Homo sapiens: one gene and its partners. The protein of the gene in region 3 interacts with the protein of the main gene of each other region in a biochemical or structural test. Each region holds a gene or a part of one and is shown on either strand. Other genes may lie near its edges.

Region 1 (7,300 bases), on a different chromosome or scaffold from region 3:
ACAGGTCAGAGCGCCCTCATTTGTGGGGCTGCCCCTCCGGGTTTCTCATCCTGTCCTTGGTGCCTTTTTCTGCCCAACAAGTCCAGGGAAGGCCGAGGTCTCAGACTCCTGGGTAGGGGTGGGGGTTTGAGTTGAGGACCAAAGTGCCATAGCGACATCCAGAACACAAGCCCACCAGGGGTCCAGCCCAGGCTACCCACTCCCCTAGGGTCTCCCAGGCTCAGAAGGGGATGCACGCCCCCTGTGGTCAAGCCTCTGGTGGGCGTCTTGCCCAGTTCCTGATGGTTCAAGGGGAGGGGGGATGTTGGCCAGGCCCCAGGGCACAGCCCTGACACAGGTGTGGCTACTGGAGGGGCCTTCATACCTGCGGCCCCAAAGCCCCTGGGCTTGGCTGTTTGAGGCAGAGGTGATGGACTCCGGGGGCCTGACACTTGGGATTTGGGAGGCTTCCTAGAGCGCTCAGCAGGTGAAGGCAGCAGGGGCCATGGCCGGGAGCCAGGCCTAGCTTTGAACTGAGTTTCAAGGGCTGCCAAAGAGGGGCAGTGGGTTGGGGTTGTTTTTACTACAAAATAAGTTACTTAGTTTTATAAAGACAAACCGATTGTAGCCAAATGACACCATATTTAATAAAATTTAGTCTGAAGTGATGTACTGTGTTTTGTGTTGCCCGATATTAAAACCAAACTTTTGTCATAGTTGGAGAATGGCCTGTGGGTATTGGAGAAGCCACCTTAGAGGTGGAATTGCGTGCGTGGCGTGCTTTGTTCAGAATAAGGAGGAAAAACCCATTGGTTGGGAGGCGGGTACAGTAGGAACCTTCCCCTCTGATTTCTGGTTAGGGACTCTGGGGTCTTGAGAACCCCTGACCCAGGGCCCTCTGCAGGAGCAGGGTGGGAGGGGCAGAGACACGTCCTGGGGGAAGTCACTGTGTGGTCGCCACTGCGGCTGCTTCCAGATGCAGGAACTGATGTGGGGACACATGGGTAGCCAAGGAGTGAGCAGCCTTTCCGGTTCACTTATGTTTGCAGCTGCGTCCTGTGAGGACACCAGGCTGTCTCTACTGACCTCACTGTGGGTCAGGGTGGCCCAGGAATTGCCAGCCGAGCACCTAGGGCAGCCAAGACAGCAGCCTGGGGTTCCCCACAGCACTGGGCCCTCAGGTGAGCACCCCAGCAACCGGACAGTGAGTGCTTGCTGCCTTTTCCCCATTCTGCTTCTTGACCCACAGGATGGTTCTTGGGGAAACAGTACACGTAATCCTATTGAAAGATATGACAGTGGGCTCTAGTTTCCTGCGCTACGAGTGTCTTCAGATTCTTTCCAGCCTGGTACTTTCACTGGCATTCTTTTGCATACACAGCCAGGCGCTGCTTTAACCAACAACAGAGATCCAGTGAGCATCTACTGAGGGGCTGTTATGGGCCCTGACTGTGCCAGGCCCTGTGACTCACAGGTACTTGGGACTCTTTGGCTCTGTACTGTTAACTTAGAGAAGAGTTTATTTCTTCTAAAAAGTTACAGCCTGACGAGAATCGCTTGAACCTGGATAGCAGAGATTGCAGTGAGCCGAGATCGCGTCACTACACTCCAGCCTGGGCGACAGAGTGAGACTGTCTCAAAATAAAAATAGTTAACAGCCTGCAAGATGGCCATCCCTCAGACTGGAAAGCACAGCCTCTGGCCAAGACCAGAGATGGGCACTTCAGAGGAGGAGGAGGAGGGGTTGGGGCAGGAGGTTTATGCTGAATGGGTTGGCTAAACATGCATATTCAGCAGGTGACAGGAGGAGCTATGAATATTCATGAAGGCAGTCCTGACGCATGCATCCTGAACAAACATACAATCCACATTCACTTTGGGGTGGAGACTTAACATTTAAAATGTATTATAATGAGGTTCTACACAGGCCAGAAGTGGTCCATCACTGTGGTCTCTTATCTGGACCAAGTTACTGAAATCAGTCTCTTGTCCAATGAAACTGTAGTTATGGCTGGTGGAATAGGGGCTGGGGGATCAGTCAGCATCCGGTGGAACTGCAAATTGGTTTTTATTGTTTTGAGACAGGGTCTTACTCTGTCGCCCAGGCTGGAGTGCAGTGGCGCCATCTGGGCTCACTGTAGCCTTGACCTCCCAGGTTCAAGGAATCCTCCCACTTCAGCTTCCGAGTAGCTGGGATCACAGGCACACACCACCATGGCCGGCTAATTTTTTTGATTTTTAGTAAAGATGAAGTCTTGCTATGTTGCCCAGGCTGGTCTCGAATTCCTGAGCTCAAGCGATCCTCCCACCTCAGCCTCCCAAAATGCTGGGATTACAGGTGTGAGCCACAGTGCCTAGCCTTTTTGTTTAAGTTTTTTGTAAAGATAGGGTCTCGCTGTTACCCAGGCTGGTCTTAAACTCTGGACCTGAAGCAATCCTTTTGGAGGCTTCAGCCTCCCAAAGTGTTGGGATCACAGGCATGAGCCATCATCTCGGCCACTGCACTGTTCCAATATTGCTTAGCTCAAGGCCAGTGCTTATTGAGCTACTAAGAGGAAAAGAAAAGCAGTGTGGCAGTAGGAATATAGTTTAAATGTAGGGTGTGTGACTTAACCCTTGCCTGGCATGACCTTAGGTCCTATTCATAATTTGGTATCTTATTGCCACTGGTGTCCCCTTGACCGCAAGGGGGTCCATTCAGTTGTTGGGGGCTTAGGATTTTAATTTTTTTTGAGACAGAGTTCTGCTCTTGTTGCCCAGGTTGGAGTACAGTGGTGCAATCTTAGCCCACTGCCTCCCGGGTTCAAACAATTCTCCTGCCTCAGCCACCCGAGTAGCTGGGATTACAAGCATGCGTCACCATGCCAGGCTAATTTTGTATTTTTAGTAGAGACAGGGTTTCTCCATGTTGGTCAGGCTAGTCTCGAACTCCCAACCTCAGATGATCCTCCCGCCTCGGCCTCCCAAAGTGTTGGAATTACAGGCATGAGCCACCGCGCCCTGCCAGGATTTTATTTTTAGTTTACAGTGTTGAGGGTTATGGGATGCCCAGGGCCTGGGGAGGAAGGGGACAGGATGTGTCCGTCCTAGTCTGAGGATGACTTTTTTGAGTTCAAAAGGGGGCGGTGGACGCACCAAGGCACAGTCCTGAGGGCAGCAGGTGCAAAAGTCCGGCCCTCCCAGAGGTGTAAGGCCTTAGAGGGATCCCAAGCATCCCTGGGGCTCAGCCTCCTGGACCTGACCCCACTGCCCACTCTTTTGGCTGGTTCCACTCTCCCCTGCATCCCTCACGTTGTCCCCAACAGGAAGCTGTGGGAACCTGTTCTCAGGTGTAGTGCACCCGTTGGGGTTCTAGTTGGCTGGATCCGCGGGGCCGTCAGCTGCAACTGTGACGGCGGGGAAGCGGGACGGGATGGTGCGGATCTACAGGACCTCGCCTCCAGGTGGAACCTACCTGCTGAGCCAGGGATTCTTCAGGATACAAACCCAGTCAACTCCAGGCAGAGGGTGGGAGCGTCATGCACCGGCGACACAGTGGAGGACGTCATGGACGGGCAGGGAGGCAGCGGCAACCGAAACTAGCGGCTCAGTCGGTGGCCGGTGTGCGGTCAACGGCCAGGGCAGTGGGACCGGAAAGACTCAGTGTAGTTGTCAACTGTTGCGACCTAAAAGGTTACTCCAAAACTTTAAGCGGCTCAAAACAATAGACGGCGCGTACGGGGCCTGCAGCGGCCACGGGACCGTGGGAAGCAGTCAGTACCCGCCACAGGCCGCGCCTTCCGGGTTCCGGGTTCCGGGTTCCCGCCAGGGAGGAGACACGCCCCCACCTGGGCAGGAACCAAGCAGAGCCGCGCTCCACCCAGGCCGGAACCAATGGGAGATGCGCCACGACCCAGGCCGAGAAACGTGCCGCTTACCCTTCCCCCACGACCTGCGCCGCGTCGCGCGCGGCCGAATCTCCCGCCAAAGCTGCCCCCGCCCGCCAAGGCGCGACCTATCAGCGTCGCAGAGGCCCGCGGCGGCCCGGCCGCCTCAATCCCGCGGGTGGGGGCAACCTTTTCCTCAGGCCTCTCCTCAGCCCACGGCGTCCATCTGGCTCCCGAGCCGAGGGCCGGGCAGTCGGGCTTCGCGGCTGCCCGCGGTCCCGAGGCCTCGCCCTAGCCCCAGTCGGCTCGCGAGGCGCGCACAGCTGAGTGGACCCCTGCGGCGTGGCCCGATGGTCTCGCCCGACCCGGCGCGCGCGGGAGGCCGAGGGGCGGGGCCCGGCGCCCACATAAAGGCGGTTGGGGGCGGGGCGCGCAGAGCTCGTGAGCGCCGGCGCGGGGACGCGGGTTTCTGCCTCAGGCCCTGCCCTGCTCTACTCTGCGCTCTCTGCCCGCGCCGCCGCCGCCTCAGCCTCGGCCCTGCGCTGCGCGCCCGGCCCGTGCTGCCATGGCCTGCCGCCCGCGAAGCCCGCCGAGGCATCAGAGCCGCTGCGACGGTGACGCCAGGTGAGGCCGGGCTGCGCGGCGGGCGAGGGAGCGCGTGCCCCGTGGGGCGGGGGTTGTGCGGGGCCGGGGTGTGGGAGGGCGGAGGTTGTAAGGCGGTCCCGAACCTCCCGTGCCCAGCCGACCGCGTCCCTCCCCGCAGCCCGCCGTCCCCCGCGCGATGGAGCCTGGGACGGAAGCGCAGAGCCGACGGCAGGCGCTGGAGGCCCGAAGACGCCGAGGAGGCAGAGCACCGCGGCGCCGAGCGCAGACCCGAGAGGTGGGCGCGGGACCCGGGGGTCGGGGCGCGGTGGGGCCCTTGACGAGGCCGCGGGCTCCAGGGACCTCGTCGCGCTCTCGCGGTGCCGGGATCGGTCAGGTCGGCACCCTGCGTCCTTTTATCTTGGTCTCCGCGCGGCCCGTGGACTGGGGCGGCCGCAGCAGGCCTGGGAGGCGCTGGAACACTCCGGAAGCCTCTTGCCAGGATGGGAGTCAGCTGAACCGGCGTCAGCCCGAGTTAGCCAGTTCGAGTCTGTGTTGTGCTCCCGGGAGAGGTCAGGGTCTCTGACGAGCTTCTCGTGAACACGTGGAAGTCAGGGACACCCGAGTCCCGAGGAGAAGTGAGTTGACAGGGCTTACCTGCTTGGCCATTTTCTGGGTTAGGCAGTGTGCAGGGAGGGTGGAGATGCGAGCGAAAGGAGGGCTTGATGGGGTGGGACGGCCGAGGAGGGTCTGGAGGAAATAAGCAGGGGTGCCAGTGGTCGTAGTGGCGGGGCTTTTCGGGGCTGTGGTTAGAGAAAACTTCTCGAGGGGCTTTGGGGTGGCTCGTCCCGCACTGGGGGCTTGTTGCTCCTGAGTTCCCTGAAAGGCGTGGTGACTTGGCCGAGATGGAGCAGTGAAGGTGGAGGGAAATGCGTGGTTCGGGATAGGCTTCTGAAGGCAGGACCTGTGAGACTTGCTGATGGGTTGGGGATGGGAGGCGTGAAAGGAAAAAAAAAAATCGGACCCAACTTCACTGTGCCAAAAGGAAAAAATTATGCTGAGCGCGGAATCATGCAAGAAACTACCTTTGCGTTACTTTTTTTTTTTTTTTTTTTTTTTTAAAGACAGGGTCTCACTCTGTCTCACAGGCTGGAGTGCGGTGACGCGATCTTGGCTCACTGCAGCCTCCCCCTCCCGGGTTCAAGTGATTCTCCTGCCTCAGCCTCCCCAGCAGCTAGGATTACAGGCGCATGCCACCGCGCCCGGCTAACTTTTTGTATTTGTAGTAGAGACAGGGTTTCACCATGTTGACCAGACTGGTGTCGAACTCCTGACCTCAAGTGATCCACCCACCTTGGCCACCCAAAGTGCTGGGATTACAGGTGTGAGCCACCGCGCCCGGCCACCTTTGTGTTTCTTTTTTTTTTTCTAAGCAGATACCTACAGATACAAGATTAAATATCTCCACGGGTGAACTCTGTTCACTTTAAGTGGCGACTTACTGAGCACACTAGGAATACATAATTGACTATTCCCCTACCTGCTCCTTTTCTCTTGGAACATGTAGATCTTTCTCCTTCAACCTACTTTTCTCTTTTAAATATTGAAGCCCTGACAGTCATCTCTGGAGAAAGGCACAGACCACAGACTCTTTCTGTAATTTCGTGTTCTTCTAGGTATGTCCTTAACATTAGCTAAATTCCTAAAGCAATTGAGACCTGTCTCAGACACTTTTTGGTTTACACAGGAAAGAGGCATCAAGAATGACTCAAGCCTTTAGGTCTGAACGCTGTTGATTGGGGCCATTTGCTAAGATAGAGAAGATGGGCTGGAGCAGCTAGGCATGGGAAGTTGTGAGGCTTGAGAAGCTGCTTAGAGAAGCAAAGGAGATGTCAAGAAAGGTAACGGAGTGTAGGAGTCTACATGGGAGGCATCTTCAGGCACAGTGAGTTACCAGGACATAGAGATGATATTTAGAGACTTGGGTCTAGGGGGCTGGGCGCAGTGGCTCCTGCCTGTAATCCCAGCACTTTGGGAGGCCAAGGCGGGCCCATCACCTGAGGTCAGGAGTTCGACACCAGCCTGACTAACATGGAGAAACCCCATTGTTGGGGACCAGCCTCGACACTTACCCGGAATGAGAAGAGACAGGTTAAGAGCTCATAAAGGTGGGAGCCAGGGGACCAGTTGGAAAATGGAGGCTGCAAAAGGCCCGGAGTTGCGGTCTCCACACTATTTATTGAGTACAATCACTTTAAGAAGTAGGCCGGGCGCGGTGGCTCATGCCTGTAATCCCAGCGCCTTGGCAAAAGGCGGGTGGATCACGAGGTCAGGAGATGGAGACCATCCTGGCTAACACGGTGAAAACCCGTCTCTACTAAAAATACAAAAAATTAGCCGGGCGTGGTAGCGGGCGCCTGTAGTCCCAGCTACTCAGGAGGCTGAGGCAGGAGAATGGTGTGAACCCGGGAGGCGGAGCTTGCGATGAGCCGAGATCGCCCCACTACACTCCAGCTGGGGCAATAGAGCGAGACTCCGTCTCAAAAAAAAAAAAAAAAGAAGTAGATGTTCAGGGTGAAACAGTGAAAGGGAGGCAGGCGTCATAGGCGTAATTATAGCGGTTTCAATGAATCTCCTTTGTGCTCAAACAGCATATCTAACTTATTGGAGAGTAGCTAGTGGGAGCGGGCTTAACTAGGAGCCTGCAAATCTGTCCACATTCCAGTGCTTTAAAGGAATGTCTTTCTTCTTGAACACTGTTTACAGATAAGAGAGCAGGTCTCGCTCTGAGCATGGGAACATGATGGCAATTAGGAGGCTTTCCTCCTCAGAGGCCTCTTGTGGCTTTTCACAACTTACTGTGCCATATTTTT
Region 2 (7,021 bases), on a different chromosome or scaffold from region 3:
AGTACTTCAATTAAGTACAATTTAGAAGAACTCTACCAGGTATGTATTAATATGCATAACCAGATTTGATTAACATAAATTGAGGTGGGATGTATATGGATTTTGCTTTCTGAAATAGGTTCTTAAGTAGACTTTTGGTTCCCTTCTAATTTTAGTTTCTCCATTAATTGATGAACTCTATAATTAGACCACGTATTCTCACATAAACCATGGGTACAGTCATACCAGTATAAGTTGTGCTTATATTTGACCCTCCTGATAAGAAATTACAGTTACGTGTACCTTGGTGTAATAGAAGTTCTACCTATAATGTAATCCTATAGCATGAATCCCAAAGATGATTTCTGGTGACATGTCATTCTATTGTGATAATTGTTTCTTAGTTGTGTTACCTACCCATAGGAAAGGCCTCAAGACATGCAGATATTATTCATATCCTTTATTCTACCTCCTTCTTAATAGTAGACTTTGCCATTTCTTTTTCTTGCTCTTTACATTTTTCTAATACCTGGGCTACAAGACGCACCTTAGCCCAGAAATGAGTAGCAGTTTGTAGTCCAGCAGCTTAGTCTGAGGTTCAGATTCTTTACTTAGCAAATGGGTCCTTACACTTAAATATAATTTTAAGGGCAGTTCCTAAGGGCAATCCCTTGCTACCAAGAAATTTTTCCCTACTGTGTATTTGACACACAACCAATTCAAGAAGTTACTTTCATTAGAGTGTCAGGGATTTGGTGTTAAAAGATACTTCAGGCCGGGCACGGTGGCTCACACCTGTAATCCCAGCACTTTGGGAGGCCAAGGCTGGCAGATCACCTGAGGTCAGGAGTTCGAGACCAGCCTGACCAACATGGAGAAACCCCGTCTCTACTAAAAATACAAAATTAGCCAGGCAATGTGGTGCATGCCTGTAATCCCAGCTACTCAGGAGGCTGAGGCAGGAGAATCGCTTGAACCCAGGAGGTAGAGGTTGCGGTGAGCCGAGATTGCACCATTGCACTCCAGCCTGGGCAACAAGAGTGAAACTCCATCTCAAAAAAAAAAAAAAATATATATATACTTCAGAGTACAATAGCTTGAATTTTTGTATTGATGAGTACCTTGTAAGAAATTATGTTGGTTTTATTTATCAGTATTTGTATATTTTAGTTGCAGAGCTAGTATGGTGATGGGTAAACCTGGATTAGGAGTCAGAAGATGGGTTTGGGATCTAGTTTTGACTGCTGTTACCCTCATAATCTTGGGCCAGGTACTAAAGCCCTCTCAGTTTTTTTTCCTGTTTTTTTAAGAGATAGGGGTCTTGCTATGTTGCCCAGGCTGGTCTTGAACTCCAGGGCTACAGCAGTCTTGTCACCTCAACCTCCCAAGGTGCTGAGATTACAGGCATGAGCTACCAAACCCAGCCGTCACTCTCAATTTAAATTTCCTCCTCTCTAAAGTAGAGGAAATAATAGTTTGCCCTACCTGTCTCACAAGGTTGCTGATAAGAATCAAATAAGATATTTGTGGAAAACGCCTCCAGGCACTATAATCTTACAAATATAAGATGGTATCACGAGTCAAACTTTTTTACAAGCCACATTATAGCTTCTTCACTTGTAGTATGACAATTGAGATCACCAGTTTCTGTTGCTGTGAAAATTAGTACACGCAAAATACTCAAATCAGTGCACAACACATAGTAATAATGCCGTGTAACATTATAAGCATTATAATGCTATGCAAATGTCGGCTAGTAGTTGTAGTACTAAGCTATTACTTAAGAATAAGCCCATTTCATATGGCTCTTTTGGCGTATTATATATGCGTCTCTTAAAATGTACAACAATAAAAGCCAAAATATGAAACTGACTTGGAAAGGCCTTAAGAGAGCATGTGGTCCAATATTTTTTCTTTGTGGTGTCCATGACAGCCTGCAAAGGGGATTCATCTCGTATTATCTCATATAAGCATTATGGAAACCCTTTCTGGGGTACGTAGGGTAGTAGTTACTATCCCCACTTTTTTTTTTTTTTTTTTTTGAGATGGAGTCTTGCTATGTCACTCAGGCTGGAGTGCAGTGGCGTGATCTCGGCTCACTGCAACCTCCACCTCCCGGGCTCAAGTGATCCTCTTGCCTCAGCTTCCCAAGTAGGTGGAATTACAGGCGCCTGCCACCACGCCCTGCTAGTTTTTGTATTTTTAGTAGAGACAGGGTTTCACCATGTTGGCCGGGCTGATCTCGAACTCCTGACCTCAAGTGATCCACCCGCCTCCACCTCCCAAGGTGCTGGGATTACAGGTGTGAGCCACCGCGCCTGGCCTATCCCCACTTTATTGATGAGGAGACTGAGTCTCAGAGAAGTTGAATAACCTGCCCAGAGTCACATATTGGCAGAGCAGGGGCAACTCAAACTGAGATGCTGGATTTCTAGTTCATTGCACTTTTACTCCTGTACCACCTCACTAATATACCCTGGTACTTTGAATACCACTGTAGTGCAGTGTTTGAAACAATTAAATTGTTTTACTTTAGGGAAAAAGCTCTTTATAATTTTAGTAGTATTTTTATCTGTGCATGCATAAGTGGTGTTTATTTGGATAGTATATGGTGTTTATTTGGATATGCTGGTATACAGCATATTTAATTTCAATAATATTTTATATATTCCATATTTGTAACAAATGTTTATTGTGGTTATTAATTAACCCTATTTACTTTACCTTGAATATTTTTCCAGAGCTTTTGATTTGAAAATACTTTTCCTGATACATTGATTCTGTTAAATCTTTTTCTTTCAAGAGCATAGAGCTTGCATCTCTTGTTTTTGTTTTCTTGTACTTCGTAAGTTTTACCTGCTGTTGTTCAGTTGCATTTCTTTAGCCTAGTCACAAGTCTTATAACTTCACTGTTTGCATTTTTCATAATACCTTACTGCTTTTGCTATAATGAATTCAAAAGCATTGGTTTTTAGCTCTTTTACTGTTTTTGACCTTAATTTTATAAATGTTCCTTTGGATTGTTCTCAGAAAGATTATTTTGAGATGTTCAAGTTCAAACAGGAGGATAAAGGAGGTAAAGCTATTTCATATAATCTGGACTTCAGGTGCTTGTTTGATTTTGACTCATTGAAACGTAATTAGAAGTACTCTCTCAATCTACCTGAGTGGGAAATAAAAACATAAGAAAAAGTACTCTTCTAAAATTGAAATAATGTGGAAATATGTAGTTATACAAAAGTTCTCCAAACCCCTGTCCCACCCTCTTTCTCTGAGGTAAACACTTACTGGCATATATCTGCTTAGAACTTACTTCTGCATGAAAAAACATTTTGCTTTAAAGCTTTAAGTATGGAAGTCCCTAGTGTGGGTTGCATGTACTGCCTACTAAGTTTTTAATTTCTATAAAAGAACATGCTGTTCTAAGTACACTTGCAGTAAGCAAACATTGTCTTTTTAAAGTAATTTTAAATTAGAATTGGACCTGAGTTTTAAAATTATCTTTCCTTGACAACCTTGAGATCCTGTGGGTGTGAGGCAGTGATTAATGTTTTCATTTGACTGTTTTGTTTGTTTGCGTGCTTGTTTTTAATTGACTGCAAATAAGACTGATTAAATGCACTGACTTTTGAGCTGTCCAGCCTGCCTTAGGTTACAAATCTGTCACTCATCATATAACTTTGGGCGAGTTACTTCTCTAAGTCTTGGTTTCCTCATTTACAAGATGGTGAGACTAACGGCTACCTATATGGTAGGGTTTTTTAGACGTAAATGAAATATTGCAAAAAAGTAATTATCACAGTTCCTGCTATATATTGGTATGTGTCATCAATGATAGTAGATATTTGAGTCTTTAGAAAAGAAATCTTTATTTTAAAATTACATTTTATTTTAGAGCTCTGAAGCCACACGATTTTAAATTCTAAATCTACACTGGGCCAGAGCAGCTGTCTGATAAATAGATTACATTCCAAATGTGCTTCAGTAGACACCATTAGCGAAATTGAAAAAATAATAGAAAAAGACAGGAACTCTCTAGGAACAGTGTCCCTCTACGCTTAAAAAGAATGTGTCTTGTTTTCACATGTGGTATCATACAGTTGGAATTTTGGTTTTGGTGTGAGTTTTTTTACTATTAATAAGTAATATTTTAAATAGGATTATTTTCATAATCCTATTATGAGCTCATGTTCTCAACTTTTGTATGAGTAGCCGCAGTGTTTTGTTTTGTTTTGTTTAAATAGAGATATGGGGGTCTTGCTATGTTGCCCAGGCTGTTCTCGAACTCCTGGCCTCAAGCAGTCATCCCGCCTTGGCCTCCCAAAGTGCCAGGCTTACAGGCATGAACCACCATGTCTGGCCTACTACAGTGTTTAAGATCAGCTACCTTTTTTGGAGATGCTGGAAGTTTGTACAGGAGCGTGTAACATTTATCTTTCCTATAAATCTCTAGCTATTTTTAAAGTCAAGCCTAGGCCATACTTCAATTCTGATGAAAATAATTTTATTTATTATTAATAATGGGAACTGTAGTTACCTTTTTGTGAAATAAACCTTAAATGATGAACCTTTCTATTAACGATTCATTTATAGAGTAGATGACCACAGGACTAGAATCAAATAGTATAGGTTATTATCAATTGTAAAATCTGGTTGCTTAAGCAGTCAGTGATTATTAAGAAAGCAGTTAGATTCTTAGCATTGTTGATGACTAGCTGTTGGAGTCTGTGTAACTTTTGTCACCCTGTTGATGTCTTAAAGCTTAGTCTATTATGTATTATGTATTTCTCTTTTTACTGAATCGTTAATCAGTACTATTGTTGCTGTTTTTTAAAATGTACAACTAAAATTCTACTCTTTGTTATTTTGAAATATACAATAGATTATTAAATAATAAAAAATTTTAAAATGTGCACTTACAAATTCTTAGTCCTTGATAATTTTCAGTCTTATTTAAGTCCTGTTTACTGGAAGTAAAAAGAAAAGGAGTTTAGGTTTCATTGTATAGTTGGTTTCCTTTAAACAGATTCTTAGTTTTTGAATACTTAGAGTATCTTAGCCATATTTACTTGACATAAAAAGAGAGATAATGTAGATCTTATTGCTATATCAGTTGTTGAATTTTTTGTTATGTGCTTTACTTACTATCTGTAAACATAGCTCGAAAACTAAGACTCCACTCCTTAGACCAGTGACCAGAGTTCAACACCCTGGTGGAAATTCAGTATCTTTTTTATTGTCTGTTGTTCAGTAAATATTTGCATATGTCATTTGCTACACGTTTATATATATTTTTTGACTGTGTTTTTTTTTCAGACACTTTTTTTTAGCTCATCCTTGTGAAGAAAGACACATTTTTTATGTATCCTGTGGATTTTGGAGGGGAAGGGCTGGGATTTGGAAGAATAAGGGTTAGAAGCTTGCTAGAATGCCTGTATTTTATACCTAAGTACCTTCAAAGGATTTAAGGCAGCATATTTACTGGTAATTAGTGGGAGCTTAAATAAAAAGATAGTTTTATTAAAAAGACTTGTAAGGCTGGGTGCGGTGGCTGACGCCTGAAATCCCAACACTTTGGGAGGCCAAGGTGGGCGGATCACCTGAGGTCAGGCATTCAAGACCAGCTTGGCCAACATGGTGAAACCCAGTCTCTACCAAAAATACAAAATTCAGCCAGGTGTGGTGGCACGTGTCTGTAATCCGAGCTACTGGGAAGGCTAAGGCATGAGAATCGGTTGAACCCAGGAGGCAGAGGTTGCAGTTATCTAGAATCTGTTTATTACAAATAGTTGTTTGTGAGGCAAGAGGTTACTTCCAGAGATTCCCAAAGTGTTTTATTAGTGTAAATAATAAATACGTAATGCATAATATGTAAAAATACATAAATAATACATAATATTTAAATAAAACAATGCATAATATGTAAAAATACATAAATAATAAATACATAATATTTAAAAGAATATATTTGTAAAAGTGCTTTTCAAAGATCTAGAGTAAAATAGAGCTTATCTCAAACACCTTCTTATTCCTGTTTCCATCCCAGCATGTAATAGGATGAAGAGTACTTAGTAAACAGTCATTCCTTGTTCAATCCATGACTGCTTACTGTGTCCAAAACTGGACTGATACCTTGGGGTTATGGAAAGCACTTAGTACTAGTAAGAGAGCATAAGTACCTACCCTAAGTTACTTATGTTCTAATAGGTTCATGAAATTAATAGTTCGTGACCAGCATTTTTTAAAAAGAAATGAAATAGCAAATATCAGAATGCATCACATAGAGTAATGATGTGTAGGTTCGTGAAGATTTTATTTTAGTTACATAAATTTATGTATGATGGATTGTGACATTAGATTTCCTACTGTGGCTTTGGGTCAAAACATTTTGGAAGCCACTGTTTTACAGACACCACTCCAAATCTTGCCTAAAGGTGAGAAAAGTAGAGTACTTGGATCAAAGGATGTGTGAAAGGTTATAATCGGGTGGCCAAGGTGGCTCATGCATGTAATCCAGCACTTTGGGAGGCTGAGGTGAACAGTTCACTTGAAGTCAGGAGTTCGAGACTAGCCTGGCCAACATGGTAAAACCCCATCTCTACTAAAAATGCAAAAAAACCTAGCTGAGTGTGGCGGCGCATGCTTGTAATCCCAGCTACTTGAGAGGCTGAAACAGGAGAACCACTGGAACCTGGAGGCAGAGGTTGCACTGAGCCAAGATTGCACCCCAATCTGGGCGACAGAGCAAGACTCCATCTAAAAAAAAAAGAAAAAAGAAAAGTTATAATCAGACATGAGATGAAAGTGGTAAGATTTGCCTTGAACACCATGCTAAAAAGTATGGTGGTGGGGAAGTTAGAAAGGCTTTTATTGGGGAAGGCAAGTATTTAAGTTTTTTGAATACCTGATATATTCCTCTGGTTCAAAGCCCCGAAAGTATTGCAGAGCATGTAGTGAGAAGTCTCACTTCCACCCCATCCTCCAGTCCCCTAGTTAGTTCTCTTTGTGACAGACATTATTAGTTTTTTGGGTATCTTTCCAG
Region 3 (7,021 bases):
AAGGGCCAGATAGGTCTTATCTCCTAAACTTTGAAGGGGTAGGTGTTAAAGGAGCCTCAGAGATATTAAAGGTTAGGTTAAATGGGGTTGAAACTTTGAGAGTAAACAAAGTAGAAAAGTGTAGAAAATTGTAGAAATTTAGAGGATGGTGGAATGGTTGAAAGACGGGATTGCACTCACAGCCAAAAGGGAAGAATGACTGTTCTGATATTCCAGCTCTGTTAGGATTCTGCTGATTGGGACACTCCTTATCCTGAGCACCCCTCACCCTCACTTTCTCTCTCCTTCCCTAGCTTCTTGCCCAATGATCTGGGCTTCACTGATAGCTACTCTCAGAAGGCTTTCTGTGGCATCTACAGCAAAGATGGTCAAATATTCATGTCTGCTTGCCAAGGTACCAGACCCTGGTCCTATAAACTATCTTTTCCTGGAACATGGGACATTCCCCCTGACTGAGGCTAGAAAGCCACAGACGGGGAGCTCAGACCTGGCTTAAGGATGCTTAGCCAGACCATGTTTCCCATGATAAAGGGAAGACTCCACAGGTACACTGAGTGGGAGATGTCTAATCTAGAAAAGTTACAAGGAAACTGTCCCATAATTCTGCCTGATCTTTACTTACACAGACCAGACAATCCGACTCTATGACTGCCGATATGGCCGTTTCCGTAAATTCAAGAGCATCAAGGCCCGCGACGTAGGCTGGAGCGTCTTGGATGTGGCCTTCACCCCTGATGGGAACCACTTCCTCTACTCTAGCTGGTCTGATTACAGTGAGTATGCACCAGGCTTCCACTGACTCTCCAGCCTGGGACCTGAGGTTTCCATGTGCCTGTCCCCTCTGAGCCAGGATCCCTCACTTTGTCCTGGGAAAATCACTCCCAAAGTGCTCCAGTACCCTTGTCCCCTGTTTGATCTCTTCCCTAGCTTCACTTCCACTCTTCTTCCCCCATCCCTGAAAGATTCTTGTTTTTCTTGCTTCTCTTAGTTCATATCTGCAATATCTATGGTGAGGGAGATACACACACTGCCCTGGATCTCAGGTACTGGCTTCCCTTTCTGGTCAGACTCATCAGAAACTTCTCAAGGGAAGCTCTTTGGGAGCAAACCTCTTGAGTTGGAAGTTCTGTTTAGGGGAAAAAGTATACTGGTGGGTCTGTGTGCATTCCTGGGAGGGAAGCACCATCTTGTCAGCCAGAGGACTGGGTAAAATAGATGGTTGCAGGATGATTTCTGGGTTCTCACTGAGCATCTGCATTATGGTGCATGTTAGCCAGACTTCTTTTTTCCCCTGGGGATGTGCCTTACAACCGTTGTCAGATTTTATGTAGATTAACAAAAGCTGAAGGAAGTCCACTTAACCCAGCTCCTTCTTGCTTTTAGGCCAGATGAGCGTCGCTTTGCTGTCTTCTCCATTGCTGTCTCCTCAGATGGACGAGAAGTACTAGGAGGGTAAGTGCTTGTGGGGTATGTTTCCCTCAATAACAAGATGGGGGTTCTGCCAGAGATGAGTTCTGCTGTTACACAGATGGCACTGGCAGCTGCAGAGAACAACCAGACCTTCTCCCAAGGTCAGGATTTACAAGTTGCTTCACCCCTTGCTCTCCATTTCCCCAGCACGAGATTGGAGGTGTCAAGCCTCCTTGAAACACAGCTAACTCTTCCCCCACTTCCTGTATAAAAAGAGCAAAGGGCTTGACCCAGAGCAGGATTTCTCAGTGGAACTCTCTAGAGCATATACCACGTTGGTCCTCTCGATCATGGCTCCAGGACCCTCCTTTATCCCTTCCCTTTCAGGGCCAATGATGGCTGCCTGTATGTCTTTGACCGAGAACAGAACCGGCGCACCCTTCAGGTATGGCTCCTGAGATAGAGCCTCTGCCTCCTGGTTTTTGGCTTTTTATAAGACCTAGAAAGAGGTCTTATATCCTGGCCTCCTTTTCGCCTAGATTGAGTCCCATGAGGATGATGTGAATGCAGTGGCCTTTGCTGATATAAGCTCCCAAATCCTGTTCTCTGGGGGAGATGATGCCATCTGCAAAGTGTGGGATCGACGCACCATGCGGGAGGATGACCCCAAGCCTGTGGGTGCACTGGCTGGACACCAGGATGGCATCACCTTCATTGACAGCAAGGTGGGCCAGAAGTCAGGACTGTACAGCCAGGCCGCTAAGGTTCTAGTTGCCCAGGAGGGCATGAAAGCGGACTGGTGTGGGAATTTGACAAGCTCCTTATTAACCAAGGTTTGTAAGAGTTGGAGTTTAGGGAAGGGGCTCAAGCCAGGGAACATGAATTCCATCTGTACTCACCAGTCCTCAAGGAGCAGGGCAGGGCTTTCCGTACAAGAAAAATGGAAGACCGGTCAGGTACAGCGGCTCACACCTGTAATCCTAGCACTTTGGGAGGCTGAGGTGGGAGGATCACTTGAGCTCAGGCGTTCCAGACCAGCCTGTGAAACCTAGCGAGACCTCATCTCTATTTATTTAAAAAAAAAAACAAAAAAAAAAAACTAAGGCCAGATGCCGTGGCTCATGCCTGTAATCCCAGCACTTTGGGAGGCCGAGGCGGGCAGATCACGAGGTCAGGAGATCGAGACCATCCTGGCTAACATGGTGAAACCCCGTCTCTACTAAACATACAAAAAAATTAGCTGGGTGTGGTGGCAGTCGCCTGTAGTCCCATCTACTCAAGAGGCTGAGGCAGGAGAATGGCGTGAACCCGGGAGGCGGAGCTTGCAGTGAGCCGAGATCACCCCACTACACTCCAGCCTGGGTGACAGAGCAAGACTCCATCTCAAAAAAAAATTAGTTAATTAAAAATTAAAAAAAGAAAAATGGAAGACAATCTGATTAAGGCTAGAATAGGAAAGCCGGCCAGTAGCCTGGGCAAGGAAAGGAAAACCTAGCCAGGTGGTAGGATCTGAGGCAGAACGCTGGAAATGAGTTCACCTGGATGAAGAGAGGCAAGTAAAGCCAGAGGCCAGAGTTCTTCTGCTCAACTAGAGAACGGGAACTAGACTGACAGGCGCCGACATTTGCAAGCTCTGATGCTTCACTATCCACCTTTGGATTCATAGGGTGATGCCCGGTATCTGATCTCCAACTCTAAAGACCAGACCATCAAACTCTGGGATATCCGACGCTTTTCCAGCCGGGAAGGCATGGAAGCTTCACGCCAGGCTGCCACACAGCAAAACTGGGACTATCGGTGGCAGCAAGTGCCCAAAAAAGGTGAGACTGGAAGTACAGGCACAGTGGATTTGTCTGTAGCCTGGGAGCCCTGGAGGACCTCCCCCTCAGCCCTCTTTGCCAGGCATTAACTCTTTATTTGCTAAATCATGGATGGAATGGCCAGAGGTTCCTAGGATTGGGGCCTGGGTGGGGGTCACTCAGAATCAACCAATATAAAAGTATGTGAGTGTAATGATTAACCGGCAGGGCCATATTGGAGACTGTCCACTGACTATTAGGTGGAGAAAGAGCCACCACTTGAAGATTGGAAAGGCATTTGTCTCTGGGCATCGAACCTTGCTCAGGACTGGTGGTACGAAACAATCCCAAAGCAGATTTCCTAACCTAGGGTTTACTCTGCATCCCTACCCAGCCTGGCGGAAGCTGAAGCTCCCAGGGGACAGCTCCTTGATGACCTACCGGGGCCACGGAGTGCTGCACACCCTCATCCGCTGCCGGTTCTCCCCCATTCATAGCACTGGCCAGCAGTTCATCTACAGTGGCTGCTCCACTGGCAAAGTGGTTGGTAAGGATTGTGTCAGAACAGGGGGCCTCAGGAAGGGCAGGAATGACTCCTTGCCATTCCACCTATAACGACTAGTGACCACCTTAAAAAGCCCAGTGACAGCTACAGGTAAAATCAAACTTAGCTTGGAGGCTTAAACAGAGAAATAGAAACCATTCTATTTTTCAGTGTTTTAAATTAAGAAAAGGAACATAGAATTCTAGACAGTAAATATAATAGATTGCCAAAAATATAGTTGGTTCTGTTTTTCAGCCAGTCAAGAAAGAGGTTGCAGATGAAAGGTAGGAGGGAACAGAGACAAAATGACACAGGAAGATGGTAGCAAGTAGTTAAGGGACATGCAGTCGCTAAAGCAGAAAAGCATAGAAAGAAATAAGCTGGCTGCAGTGGCTCATGCCTGTAACCCCAGGGCTTTGGGAGGCCAATGAGGGCAGATCACTTGAGCCCAGGAGTTTGAGACCAGCCAGGGCAACATGGAGAAACCTTGTCTCTACAAAAAATGGCTGGACATGGTGGCACAGGCCTGTAGTCCCAGCTACTTGGGAGGCTAGGGTGGGAGAATCACCTGAGCCCGAGACTGCAGTGAGCCATGATTGTGCCACCGCACTTCAGCCTGGGTGACAGAGTGAGAAACTGTCTCAAAAAAAAAAAAAAAAAGGTCGGGCACGGTGGCTCATGCCTGTAATCCCAGCACCGTGGGAGGCCGAGGCGGGCAGATCACCTGATGTCAGGGGTTTGAGACCAGCCTGGCCAACATGGTGAAGCCCCATCTCTATTAAAAACACAAAAATTAGCCAGGCATGGTGGCAGGCGCTGGTAATCACAAGCTACTTGGGAGGCTGAGGCAGGAGAATCGCTTGAGCCCAGGAGGCTGAGGCAGGAGAATCGCTTGAACCCGGGAGGCAGAGGTTGCAGTGAGCCAAGATCGCGCCACGGCACTCTAGCCTGGGCAACAAGAGCGAGACTCCATCTCAAAAAAAAAAAAAAAAGAAAAAGAAAAAAAAAACCAGAAGCACAGCTGCAGATACAAGGAGCCTAAGGCAGTGCTGTCCCTAGAGAGACACTCACAGTCCCATGACAAAAGAAAGATGCACCCTGTCCAGATAAGGTGCAGCAGGTGCACACACCCCCAGACAGCTCATTGTTCACTTTTGTGGTGCCTTCCATATCTTACTAAAATCTTCAAAGCCAGTGCATTTCCTTAACTGTAGCCCCTATGAAATTTAGCTAAGGGCCAGACATACCCACACCACTAAACCATACCCTCAACCCAAGGTATGGAAAGGAACAGGGATAGAAGCAGAAATAACACAGTCTTCTGGTGTGGGCTTTGCTCCCATGGGAACATGGGAAGTTGCCTGAGAGGCAGGTCAGTGGTGCTACTCATGGGGAGGTGAGGGATAGTTTAGATGTCTTGTGGTGGTCCCTCTCCACTCTTGCCTGTCCTGGACAGTGTACGACCTTCTAAGTGGCCACATTGTGAAGAAGCTGACCAACCACAAGGCCTGTGTGCGTGACGTCAGTTGGCACCCCTTTGAAGAGAAGATTGTCAGCAGTTCGGTGAGGTTGCAAGGGTTGAGGGTGCTGGCACATGTCTGGGGCTTGGACTTGGGTGGGGGCAGCACATCCTGACTGCTTGCCACCCTCTGCCCTGCAGTGGGACGGGAACCTGCGTCTGTGGCAGTACCGCCAGGCTGAGTACTTCCAGGATGACATGCCAGAATCTGAGGAATGTGCCAGCGCCCCTGCCCCAGTGCCCCAATCCTCTACACCCTTTTCCTCACCCCAGTAGATCCAACCTCCAGCCCCATATAGGGTGAACCTCTTGATAAGCTCTCTGCCTCCTCCTCCCTTTCTCCCTTGTGGGGAATGTTTGGAGGAATCACTGGCATTTGATGGGGAATAACATAAGCCTGGGCTCTGAGCCTCAGCTGAGCCCTGGAAGATTCTCCCCATGGGGCAGAGTGGTCTCCTTACGTGCTCACACCCAGTCAGCTTGGGTCCCTATCTCTGGCCAGAGTTTGGCAGGACTGCCATTATCTGGGGTGTGGCCTCTGCCAGCAAGAGAAGTGTCCTGGGTGTTTTTAATCATGTTTGAATGTTAGGGGTTGGATCCTAGAGTAGATGCCTGAGGCCACATCTGAACAGACCTGTCAGCCAGGCCTGCCAGGTCTTCACGTTGAGGATTCAACTGGCCAATCACAGGACAGGTGTCCTGGCCTTTCTTCCTGAGGTCTCTAGGGGAGGGGCATGGGTAAGGGTGTTTCCTCAGCACCCTCCTGGGGTGGGGATTATGTCTGCTGTCATGTCTGGGTCTTTAGGGTAGGACAGGCTGTGGTATGAGAGGCAGGAGTCTCCACAAGGCTTCATGTGGCCCCTTATAGGGCAGGCCCTGCCCTCTGGGAAGGTCCCTTCATGCTGGAGGCACACAGCTTTAAGGAAGTAGGTTGAAGTAGGACTCCTTCGTCCTCTCACTGGCTTTGGCTCCCTCAATAAACTGTGTGGGAACCTGGCTCAGTGTCTGTCTCTCTCTCTCACTCTCTGTTTTTCCTATCTGAGGTCTTTCATCTCCTCACTTCAGGAAAACACAGTTCAGCAAAGTCTTCAGATGCGATCCTGTGTAGGAGAAAATACCCTTCTGGTGCCCCATGAAAAAGGGAAATACCAAAACCATTTGTTCACTGAGCCTTGCAATAGGTGCTCCCTTACCAATTTCAGAAGCTTCCCTGCAAGTAGATATCGAGAGAGCACACTTTCCATTAGAGCCTGGTAATACCCATATCACCTCTGCTCTGAGGCTGGGCCTGCAGCTGTGTAGTCTTTGGAAGAGGTAGCCCCTGAACGCAGAGCCTAAGAGAAGCAAGTCGGCCCTGACGCCAGGCCCCAGTGGGCGCCTCACACTCAGAACCTCATACCCCAGAGCAAACCGATGGTCAGGGAGAGGGCTAGAGCTCACACCCAGCTCGGAATAGATCTTCCCTGATGACATTTCATGCCCTCTAAGGCAGTTTTTAAATGAAGGTACACACATCCAGGGGTGTTCACAGGCTTTCACAGCAAGGGTACCTATTTCATGGCAAAATAGGCAGTTTTAAAAGAATAAACAAGCTAGGTGTGGTGGCTCATGCCTGTAATCCTAGCACTTTGGGAAGCCAAAGCTGATGGATCGCTTGAGCCCAGGAGTTTGAGACCAGCCTGGGCAACATGGCAAAACCCCATCTCTACAAAAAATACAAAAAGTAGGCCGGGCACGGTGGTTCACACC

What was found.
Region 1: the proteins of DCAF11 (region 3) and SLBP form a complex in vitro, tested with the Homo sapiens proteins (2 studies listed by BioGRID, with this or other methods).
Region 2: the proteins of DCAF11 (region 3) and CUL4B form a complex in vitro, tested with the Homo sapiens proteins (one study listed by BioGRID).

Annotation. Positions count from the first base shown.
Region 1 is NC_000004.12:1,709,299-1,716,598, reverse strand, and holds the start of SLBP (histone RNA hairpin-binding protein), read left to right. Parts: upstream 1-4,279; 5' UTR 4,280-4,410; coding exon 4,411-4,469; intron 4,470-4,608; coding exon 4,609-4,725; intron 4,726-7,300. UniProt on the Homo sapiens protein: RNA-binding protein involved in the histone pre-mRNA processing.
Region 2 is NC_000023.11:120,550,942-120,557,962, reverse strand, and holds part of CUL4B (cullin-4B), read left to right. Parts: coding exon 1-39; intron 40-7,021.
Region 3 is NC_000014.9:24,117,762-24,124,782, forward strand, and holds part of DCAF11 (DDB1- and CUL4-associated factor 11), read left to right. Parts: intron 1-293; coding exon 294-394; intron 395-626; coding exon 627-773; intron 774-988; coding exon 989-1,043; intron 1,044-1,383; coding exon 1,384-1,452; intron 1,453-1,797; coding exon 1,798-1,855; intron 1,856-1,949; coding exon 1,950-2,135; intron 2,136-3,076; coding exon 3,077-3,230; intron 3,231-3,603; coding exon 3,604-3,756; intron 3,757-5,209; coding exon 5,210-5,316; intron 5,317-5,413; coding exon 5,414-5,548; 3' UTR 5,549-7,021. UniProt on the Homo sapiens protein: May function as a substrate receptor for CUL4-DDB1 E3 ubiquitin-protein ligase complex.